3 linked regions of the Homo sapiens genome follow. The protein of the gene in region 2 purifies or fractionates together with the protein of the main gene of each other region. This does not show direct contact. Each region holds a gene or a part of one and is shown on either strand. Other genes may lie near its edges. The genes, in order: MARCHF6, P2RY2 and FIRRM.

Region 1 (3,726 bases), on a different chromosome or scaffold from region 2:
CCACCTCCACAGTCATCCCAAGAATAAAGTAGTTGTCTCAACAACTTGACCTTCCCCTTTACATGTCCTTTTTTGTGGACTTCTCTCTTTGGAGATTTTTCCCAGTGATCTCTCAGCGTTGTTTTTAAGTTAAATGTATTTGACTTGTGTTCTCAGCATTCAGAGAGCAGCGGTGTAAGATTCTGCTGTTCTCCCTGGATCTTCTGACATTACTGCTGTCTGAGATTTGTATATGTGTAAATACAAGTTCCTTGATACCCTAAAACCTTGGATTAAACAGAATGTGCATTGTACATCTTTAAACAAAATGTATATTAATTTATTAAATCTAGTTGTCACTTTATTTTGGACCTGCTGTGATCTCGACAGGAAACGTGCCACAGAGCAGTAGTGCGCAGGCAAGACTTTTCAGTGACGCCTTGTGGAACGCAGTTCATGATGTCCTAGCAGCTCTCACTAAGGGAACTGTACATTCTTTCTTTCTTGGCTATTCAGACCTTACCAAGAACGTTAAAGGAAACAAGTAGAAATCAGCAGTGGAGTGTCTGTGGTAAGAAAACATGAACTTTATGCTTCACTGTTAGTTGTTTGTGGAAGTTATTTTGTATAACACCAAAGCTGTTGTACATTTCCTACTGCCTGATTTTTTTCATGTGTCTGTGTTTGTAATATTGTATAGTATCTTGTGCTAGGTGAGGAAATTATTTTTAATTTTGATAATTTAATATTCCTAGTGTGATCAGCATTGGGAGTTGGGTTTCAGTGGGGCATGTCTATACTTAGAGAAAAAAAGTCCAAATGAAGATTTTCATGAGTCAGCCCCCCCGCCCGCCCCCACCCCACACCCACATCCTCTCTTTTCCACACACAACTATCTGTTTATTTTTTGTAGCAGTGGCCGAAAGTCCTGCAAGGTCATAAATCTTTCAGAGTGACATCACCAACTGTACTGCATCTTACTGGATTTAGGACTTCTGAGATGCTTGTGAAGTATAGATGTGGTTGTGGTCTTAGATTGACAGCATTAGAGAAGACTGGTTAGAACATCTGGTCTCGCTGGTTAGTGCCTCGTTGGCTGAGGACTAGGTGTGCATTTCTCCTAGCTTTTCATCAGGAAATCCCAAAGTTTCCAAAGCTTTTTGTTTACAGAATAAAACTTCAAATAAAACCAATTCATTATTTGTCCAGAAGGAAGCTTGGCTGAGCTGGCCTTTTAACATAGGAATGTATTTCGTTGGAAACATTCTGAAAAATCTCAGAGAACTGAACCCTTACAAACTTTGTTTTCCCTCATAACCAAAGCTTCAGGTTAGAAGTTTAGAAAAATAGAATGGTTGGGTACATGATCTAAATGTTTAATGCTAAAGGTATATCGTAAGGGTAGTGTTTGTTTTTGAACGATAATTTAGAAGTTCTCATAGAAAGCGTATAACATAGGTCTTCAGAAACTATAAAAGAATTTTCATATAGTATTAAAATCCATAGACTAAAATCTGAGAATTTTTTAACATATGCAAGTCAGCCAAACATAAGCTACCAAAATAAAGAGCAATGTGTTCTGGCTGTTTTATACTTCAACAATTTTTTCCCTAAGTGGTAAGCAATTACTTTAAAACATATTTTTAAAAACATCGGTATCGGGAGCTGCGGTGGCTCCGGCCGGTTGTCCTGGCACACAAGGAGGCGAGGCTATGCGTTCGAGGCCAACCTAGGCAAAATTGGAAAAAAAAAAAAAAATCAGTATCAGAAATAATGCTTGACATAGGATTCAGTGTTATACTCTTTGGCACTTTAGAGCAGCCTTTTCTCTCATTTGAAATAAGGTCTTTGTTAGCCCTACCTTTACTCAGAAATTTAGTCCTACTATAAAAAATTAGGATTTTAAAATATAATGCTGCCTGTCATAGTGTATTTCTAAATTGCTCTCTTTGGGAGAAAAACATTATTATTGAATTGAGCATATAACTATATAACTATATAACTATATATATATATATATATATATATATATATATATATATATATATATATATATATATATTTTTTTTTTTTTTTTTTTTTTTTTTTTTTTGCCCCCGAGACAGAGTCTTACTCTGTTGCCCAGGCTGGAGTGCAGTGGCACGATCCTGGTTCACTGCACCCTCTGCCTCCCAGGTTCAAGCGATTCTCCTGCCTCAGCCTCCCAAGTAGCTGGTACTACAGGTGCGTGCCACCACACCTGGCTTATTTTAGTTATTTTAGTAGAGATAGGGTTTCACCATGTTGGCCAGGCTGGTCTCGGAACTCCTGACTGCAGGTGATCCGTCCTCCTTGGGCTCCCAAAGTGCTGGGATTATAGGTGTGAGCCCCCACGCCTGGCCAACTTGATTATATTAATTTTGGGTTTTTTGTTTTGTTTTGTTTTGTTTTTTAATTTTTCAAAGAATTTGTGGATCTTGGTATAAAGTCATTGGAACATATCTGTTTTAACAGCAAGAGATCCTAGGCAGATACTTCAAAAGGTTAAAAATTCTTAATCCTACAGAATTTTAAATGAATCTTATCAATGTTTTGTAAACAAACAATATGAATGGCCAAAAAATTGCCCTCCATTTTACTGGCAGGTAATTTATATTGTCTTACTTAAGAATTCTCCCCTAGTTTTTCAATTGTACTTTATCGTGTTGTTTTCAATGAGATAAGTATTTTCATAGGGAAAGCATTTTCCAGCATAATATTTGCTTGGGTAGCATCCGGGTTTTAGTATTTAACCAAGAGCCTTTTAAATATTGAAAACCCATAGTTCAGAAAATGTTAGTATTGCTGCCCTTCTTCACATAAATTTTTTTTTAAATTATACTATTATTTTGCTTAATTTTATATTGGGTTAAAACAACCTTCAAGAAGGTTAACTAGGAAAGAAGACCTTTTTGTTTTATTTTTACTATTTATATATAGAAGACAAATCAGCATTTGGTGATAGTTTTACATGACCAGTTATCAAACGGTCATAGTATGAAGTGTGCAGTTGTTCATTATTAGTAAATTATGTTTGATTTTTAAACTATTTAGTACTAATAGTTGAGATGAAAACTGAAGAAAAATGCCAATGTGACGTTTGTGTATAGCTAGCCTTAAAAAACTTCCCATGTTTTTAGGTGACTTTTTTCCCCCTCTTAGTACTCTGGAGAAACAATGAAGATGGGCCATCTCAATTCCAGATGTAAACAAAAAGTAATTTTTATTTCAACATTTAATGTAACTGCTATTATTGTGGATTCTTGTCTTGTGTATTTTCTTTCCCTTATTCAAGTAATATAGAATAACTTTCCTTAAAATGATTTGATCCAAGATACGTCATTTCTGTATTGGCAAAATGCCACTATTAAAGTGTAATTCTTGAATTTAGGTTGAATTGATGACTTTTTAAAACAAAACAAACACTGGACAGTTCTACATTGTATTGCGTTTGCGAATGTGCGTGAACACACGCACACGTGCAGGAGAATGTAGTGCCATAAGAACACTGGCGCTTTTTAAAACTTTCCAAGCTAGCTACTTATTTTCATTTTCAGGGTTGAGTACTCTAAGCTCTCTACTTACTGTGAGAAGTTTTCTACATTGTAAAATTAAAAGATTATATTTAAAATACTTCTTTAGGATGTTATTCAGCCATCAAAAAAAAACCCAACTAAAATGTCTTACCAGTAAAGTATTATTAAAAGCCTCATTTGTGGAGATTCGCTG
Region 2 (3,600 bases):
TCCATTCTCCATCCTGCAGCCAGAGAGCGCTTTCTGAAATGCCGCTCTGACCATGAAACACCTCTGCTCATAAATTTCCATGGCTCCCTATTGCCTTCAGGATAAAATCTCTAGGTCTTTAGCCTGGGCACTCTAGGTCCTACAGTGTCCCAGATCACACTGTTCTGGCAAACTGTGCCACCCACTTTGATAACCAGATTCTGGTTTGCCCTTCTTTGTAGTGACATGGAGCTCCCCTGCAGCCGGGCCTTTACTGGAGAAGCTGGTGCCAGAGACAGGGGATGGGCGCCACTGCTGCTCTCTCAGTTCAGCTCAGCCCTGTGCAGGGTGCTGGCAACACAGAAATAATAAGACCCAGTTTCTGCCCTCCAGGAGCCCCTAGACCTGGGAAGAGGAAAGGAGGAGACAGACATAGATCATGACGGTTCAGGTGGGACCAGGGCTGTCAGCCCCAGGCCTGTAGGGGCCTAGAAGAGGCTCCAACCCAGCTGTAGGGATCAAGGAAGGCTTTCCAGAGGAGAGGACATCTGAGCTGGGTCCCAAGTCTGGGTAGTTCTCCAGTTGAGGAAGGTGAGAGTAGGAGGGCTTATCAGAGAGGGAGTGTAGAATATGCAACAGGCCAGGGGCAAGAAATGAGAGACTCCAGGCAGCTGCTGCAAGGTAAAGAGTCAGGCGGGAGAGGTGGCTGGAAAGGCTGGCAGGCCCCAGTTATCAAATACCTTAAGTCCCAGGCTACAGGGTTCAGGCTTGGTCCTGTGGAAGGCTTGTGCCCTAGGGAGGGGCACAGTTGGGATTCTGGTTCTGGGAGGCTCCTTCCAGGGACTGACTTCCCATCCCCAAGCTGTGAGCCTGCCCATGGGGGGACACTGGTGCTGAACATGACACACTCATCAGCTCCTCAACAGCCCTCAAATTCCTTATCATTAGTCCCTTCTTACAGACGAGGCCACTGAGGCTCAGAGAAAGGACGGCTTGCCCAGGCCACACAGTGGCCAAGACAGGATTGGAACATAGATCTCTGAGTCTCCAGAGCTCTCTTGTGGACCTGTCTGCTCAGAGAATCTTCTTCCTTCCACTTCCACCCACAGGTAATAAACTTGCCTGGGTCTCCACCCAGATCCTCAAAACTCATAATTATTTCAGCTTAGATCCAAAACAAACCAGGCAGATCAGGCTGTGGTCCTGGGAAGCTGGGGATGCCATGCTGAGAGGAACAGCAGCCATGGACCCCACAAATCCCGAGCTGGCAATTCTGGTCTCCAGCAGTCCCCAACCCTTGGGCTGCGCTCCTGGAGGACCCCAAGAGGGCCACTGGCAGCCTTCGGGTTGGGGGGTGGGGTATCGCCTTTCTCCTGACTGACCCTTTCTACCGCACCATTTGCCAGATTAAAAGCCCGGGGACAGAGGCTTAACTGTCCTTTCTGGCCACTCCCTCCTCCCCCGCCCACTCCCTGCAACTGCCCCCTCAACATTACCAATGGTAGGTGGCCACCCAGAGTGACCCTGGGGTTAGGACAGTGGTAGGGGGTCTCCAGGGGTTCGCGTCTCTGGGCACCGGCCACCGCCTCACGCCACGGGGACGCTCACATCGGAGCACACACAGACAAGTTCCGCAGGCTTGGCCAGTCGCCCCGAGGGGCGCACACACTCACCCGCTAACACGCAGACCTCCCCAGTACGCTGACGCGCACAGCCTCACTACTGGGGCGCCCGTCCACACTCACCGAGACCGACGCTCCCGTGGAGACAAAGTTCAACCACGGACCCACAGGCGCGTTCAAGCCGTCCAGTTATGCGCTACACGCCGGCTCGCAACTGTGCCCCGGGGCGACAGCCGCTCCACAGCGCCCTCCCCTGCCCCGCGCCCAGTCCGCACCTGCGCCAGTCTGGCCCGCCGCTTCCCCGGGCCTCTCCCAGCGCCTTGTTCCCTCCAGACGCCCCACCCCACCTCTCGCCACTGCGCTGCGCTTCTCCTCTCAGGGTGCCGTCGCCGCCGCTCCCGGGTGCCAGTGCCCGGGTCCCGCCGCAGCCGCAGAGACCCACGTGCCTGGGAGCCCGGCTACCCACCTCCCTGCGCTGTTCCCCAACCCCGAAGCCGGGCCAGGCAGGGGGCGGGGCGGACTTTTGACTGACCCTGGCACCGCCCTCAACCCGCCCGGGTAGACACCGCGCCACCCGCTCCGGGACGCCGCCCAGCGACAAGGCCGCGGGGTCAGCGTGTCTGTACCGGTGCTGCAACGGGAGGGTCGGGCGGCGACGCTCTCACTGCCGGGCCAGAAGGAGGCCTCCCGGCTCCCTCACGCTAGAAGGGAGCTGGTTACCAGAGGTTTTCAGAGACGCCAAAGTTTTGCCAGGTCAGCCCGGTGCCTGCGTGGCCCACTGCGGGACCTTTGCGCCCAGCCACCGCGCCACCCTACCCCTGTCCCGCCCCTGCCCCAGCCCGGCTGGCCAGGAAGGGACCTACTGGGAGATACCTGCTCGGAACCCCAGGCTAAGGACGTACCTCCCTTGCTTGAAAGTGGGGGAAGGGGGTGCCTCTCTCCATTACCGTGGTTAGGAAAGCAGGGTACTCAGGATCCCGCCTCTCCCGTGCTCCCCACTTTCCCTGCCTTAATCTTATCAGCAGCTCCCTGAACTCCCCACTCTGGCCCCTTATCTTGAGCTGCTTTACCTCTCTTCTCTGTCGTCAACCCCACTCTAATGGCCTTCCCTGGTCGGGCTACCGGCTGCATGTCTGACCCGTTCGGAGACTGTGAGCTCCCGAGGGCAGGAACCAGGTCTGCCTTCTTCCTGCTGCTGTCCTAGAGGTCCTGGGAGGTGCTCAATCCTTGAAGGTGTGAATGGATGAATGAATGAGCACCCCGCCTCTCTCTCATTTCTGGTCTAGGAATCAGGAGTGTAGGTTCCTGTCTGGCTTCAGCACTGACTCTGGGAGACCTTGACCCAGTTCCATTCCCTGGCAGGGTCTTCTTTCCTGTGAAATGGAGCCAATCGCTCCGCTGGCTGGACAAGTGCAGAGGAGGCCTCTTCCTGTAGCCAAGGAACTTGCCCCGGGCCTTCGGGGCCTTGGGCCCTCTTGGGCTCCATATCAGCTGACTGGGCCTGGCTGCCAGGAAGGGTGCTGGCTGCAGCCCCACCAGGAGCAGTAGCAGAGTGGACACACAGCCCATAGTGGCTGAGCCGCCTCTGCAGTCCTGCTGGGGCCTTTGCTTGGGAGACACAAAGGCCCCTTGTCTAGCCTCCTGCGCCTATTGTCTAAGCTGGGCCACGCACCTTCCAGGGACCTAAGTATCCTCATAGCCCGAGTTATAGGGCCTAGGCCTTCAGGTTCCAGTGTGGGGAAGACCCTTTGGGCACTGGAACTCCAGCCAACCCTCTCTTTCTCTCCCCTCTTCCAAAACTTCAAACCTTATACTGTCACTGCCATTTAGCCCAGGAGAAACAAGTTTCTTTGACGCCAAGTTGAGGACCCAGGCTCGACCTTAGCCTTCAGCGGGCAAATCTGGTTGGTGGCCTGCCCAGGGCTCTGCCCCTGCTCTGGCCCAATTCCCTTACTTTACAGCTGAGGAAACTGCATTCCTGAGACATACAGCGTTTCAG
Region 3 (3,726 bases), on a different chromosome or scaffold from region 2:
CTCACTGTTTGCTGAACTGGTAAGCATATTACTTACTGTGCTAAGCTAAGGTTACACTTTTGCTTTCTCTTCATTGAAATTGTGATTCATATACAGAAGAAAATGTGGGAATACTTAGTATATTCCTTTTGAGTGAAACTTAGTTGTGTCCTAGAAAATGGTAATCCCAGATTCCTGTATTATTTAGATCTAATATTTGGCTAAAATATTTGAGAAAACATTTTGGGTGGGGAGGTATGCAAAGACAATGTGAGAAGAGGAAAAATATGTAGTACTTAAGTAAGTTTCAAAAGAAAAGTAAATAGCTTGTAGTATCAGGTCTCTTATAGATCTCAGACATAATATAGATTTTAAAAAGGATAGAATTTGATTTGAAAAGAGGTTAAGAAATTCTAGGAATTCGATACTTGTAATATCTGAAATTTAAAGATCAGTAGCATTTCAGATATTACACAATATCTAGCACCTATTAAATGTTGTATGTGAATAAAGGCAGAAAGAGGAATATAAGCATATATGTTATTTATGTTGTTTTGAATATTTCAGGCTACTTAGAGAATCTTTGTGGATCCTAGTGACTGAGTTATTACATTTAAAATCATGTTGAACTCTCCATAGCACAGCACAGTACTTAATGTATAGTAGGTGCTCAATAAATATTGAGGGAATGGCAGTGTCCTTTCAGATACTAGAAAGTAGAACTCCCCCATTGAGGATCTGTTATTTGGATTCTGATAGTGCTTTCTTGTTTTATTTTGAGAAATATAATATTATTGCTTATTGTGAACTTTAGTATTTAAATAAATTAATTTTTCTGTTTTTGATTAGGATGCTGCTCTGCTGAATGCTGTACTTAGTGCTAATATGATCACCTCTTTGTTAGCTATGGATGCATGGTGCTTCCTTGCTCGGTACAACATATTTGCTTTTTTGTTCTTTGGATTGGTTATTAGTAGTGACTGACAGTAGATAATTTTATAATTGTAAGCTTATAGAAAAACTGTTTCAATAATCCTTTAAAAATAATTCCCAAAACGCTTTGATTTCATATTACAGCATTAAATTAGGAAACAAGTTCTTTCTTTGGTTCAAGCCAATAGATGAGTACTGTTTAGGGAGTTTTGTATATTGTGATATTATTTGGTCATGGAAATAATGGCAGTTTTTAATGTCCTCATCAGAATATTTAGTGCTTTATGCAAGTTCATCTCCTTATGTTTCTGAGTAATTGTATAAACATAGTTGTCTTCTCTTTTATATTGCAGATATGGGACTGCTGAACTGTGTGCACACCATGTCACCATAGTGGCTCATCTGGTGCGTAGAATTACAAGGCCTAAAACACCCACTTTCTATGCACTTCCTTTGGGGATATGATAATCTTTAAGAATGTGAATATCGGCGGGAGAAATATCACAGTAACAAGATTGTTTTGACAGTCTTTGTCTTGTATTAATGCTGATGCTTTTAAGAAGGATGTACTAAAAAACCGTTAGTGTGAAACTGGGAATGTTTTCTCATATTCTCAGGATTTTATGTAATTTCAGTAATTGTTCTGGGAAGGAAAGACTGGGTTAATTGAAATTACATTTAAAATTGAATGCAAAGTAGAAAATAAGAGCGACTTATAATTGATGGCCAAGAGGTTTCTCTCTTCTGTCTCTCTAATATGCCTTAGACAAGTCGACTCTTGATTTTGTTGTATTTTTTTTTTAAGTCAAGATGATTTGAGAGGAACTTGAGTTTGACATTGATAGATACTTTTGGCAAAAGAAGTCATGTTTTATGAATGGGTACAGACAGAAAATTATTTTATAATGATTTCATCATCTTAACATTAACATTTTTTGCTTTTAAATTCTGAGGTGTTTTATGTGTTCCATATAAGATGATTATGACCTATTTGTTACATATTTTTTTCCCTGGCCTTTAAGATCTTATGTGGGCCATACATCTTTTGTTTTCTAATAGTCTTATTGTATCATATATTTCTTGGTTTACCTTTAAAGGATTTTGTAGATCAGATCCAGTGAGGTGTGTAATAACCTGAACAGCTGACATCTATGTCTCCATGGCTGATGGTCTGGATTATCACTTACACACTTTACTAAATCCTTAACATATCTTTCACAAAGCAGATAAAGAGTGATTTTTATGTTATGTGTTTTATGTCTGAAGTTTCCTTTAAATAAAAGCTTTCTTAGTGCATTATGTTGTAGGAATGGATTTCTTCTAGTTCATTATGATAAAATTGATTCCAGGATGGAATGATACTATATTATGATAGGAATTGATAAAATTGAATTTATAAAATTTTTTTGTTAGTGGTGGTTTTTTTCTTAGAGACAGGGTCTCATTCTGTCACCCAGGCTGGAATGCAGTGGTGTGCAATCATAGTTCACTACAGCCTCAAACTTCTGGGTGCAAATGGTCCTCCTCCCTCACCCTGCTGAGTAGCTGGGACTACAGGCATGCGCCACTATGCCCAGCTGATTTTTAAAACTTTTTGTGGATATGGAGTTCTTGCTGTGTTGCCCAGGCTAGTTTCAAACTCCCGGGCTCAAGCAGTCCTCCCACCTTGGCCTCCCAAAGTGCTGGGATTACAGTTGTGAACCACCACACTCAGCCCCTGTAACATCTTTTAATGAAGCTTCTGTCTTGTAGAGTTTTATCTACCTCTCTACTATTGTAGTTAGATCTTAAAAAGTTCCATGAATTGTCTTTGAGTAGGAGGACTGACATACCCAGTTATCATCAAAATGATAATTAGAAATAGAAATTACAGTGTTAAATATGTCAGAAGTTCAATCTCATTCTAAATTTAGATTCATTGAAGATAAGAAAAGCCCCAAATTAAAAGTCAATATTACCTACAATCTTTTCCCCTAGAAAGAGCTGCTATTAATATTTTGGCATATTCTCTTCTTGTAAAAATTCTGATTCTAAATTAGTCAGTCTCTCCTCTCTCTCTCATGTCTTTTTCCAGATAAAGTCATGCCCTGGAGAATGTTATCAACTCATCAACCTATCAATACTGTTGAAGCGTCTCTTTTTCTTCATGGCACCACCCCATCAGGCAAGGAAGGATATCATCTTTGTCACTGTCTGTGAAGCTGCTCAGAGTTGGATTCAGACTCCTTTGATAGCCTTTTTTTTTCCATTTTTAAAAATTTATCTTATTATTTTTTTTGAGACAGAGTCTCGCTCTGTCACCCAGGCTGGTTTTACAGTGGCTCGATCACAGCTCACTGCAGCCTCGACTTCCTGGGCTCAAGCAATCCTCCCACCTCAGCCTCCTGAGTAGCTGGGACTACAGGCACACACCACTACGCCTGGCTAATTTTTAAAAAAATTACTTGTAGAGACTGGGTCTCACTATGTTGCCTAGGCTGGTCTCAAACTCCTGGGCTCAAGTGATCCATCTCTGCCTTCCAAAGTGCTGAGATTGCAGGTGTGAGCCACTCTGCCTGGCCTTGCCTCCATTTATTTTAAATTTAAATACTGGTGTGATCTAAGCATAAATTTTTGACGTTGATTGCTGTGCTTGTTGCTGGGTATAGATTTTGATGTCCTTGCTTTGAGTTATAGATAATTATTCTAATTCTGTCTTCCTGAAATAGATCTTTCCCCTTATTTTTCATATATATTTGAGATACATGATATGAAATGGTTCTATATCCCCTGCCCCTTTTATTTTGAAGAGCTAGAATATTATTTTTGCTCTTA

What was found.
Region 1: the proteins of P2RY2 (region 2) and MARCHF6 purify together in Homo sapiens (affinity purification with mass spectrometry; one large-scale study listed by BioGRID and IntAct). This does not show direct contact.
Region 3: the proteins of P2RY2 (region 2) and FIRRM purify together in Homo sapiens (affinity purification with mass spectrometry; one large-scale study listed by BioGRID and IntAct). This does not show direct contact.

What each region holds. Positions count from the first base shown.
Region 1 is NC_000005.10:10,433,658-10,437,383, forward strand, and holds part of MARCHF6 (E3 ubiquitin-protein ligase MARCHF6), read left to right. Parts: coding exon 1-27; 3' UTR 28-3,726. UniProt on the Homo sapiens protein: Endoplasmic reticulum membrane-associated E3 ubiquitin ligase that plays a critical role in mitigating endoplasmic reticulum stress, the regulation of cholesterol and lipid homeostasis, and ferroptosis.
Region 2 is NC_000011.10:73,216,781-73,220,380, reverse strand, and holds the start of P2RY2 (P2Y purinoceptor 2), read right to left. Parts: upstream 2,101-3,600; 5' UTR 1,949-2,100; intron 1,820-1,948; exon of another isoform or gene 1,725-1,819; intron 1-1,724. UniProt on the Homo sapiens protein: Receptor for ATP and UTP coupled to G-proteins that activate a phosphatidylinositol-calcium second messenger system. The affinity range is UTP = ATP > ATP-gamma-S >> 2-methylthio-ATP = ADP.
Region 3 is NC_000001.11:169,829,431-169,833,156, forward strand, and holds part of FIRRM (FIGNL1-interacting regulator of recombination and mitosis), read left to right. Parts: coding exon 1-19; intron 20-828; coding exon 829-911; intron 912-1,265; coding exon 1,266-1,317; intron 1,318-2,986; coding exon 2,987-3,076; intron 3,077-3,726. UniProt on the Homo sapiens protein: Regulates PLK1 kinase activity at kinetochores and promotes faithful chromosome segregation in prometaphase by bridging kinase and phosphatase activities.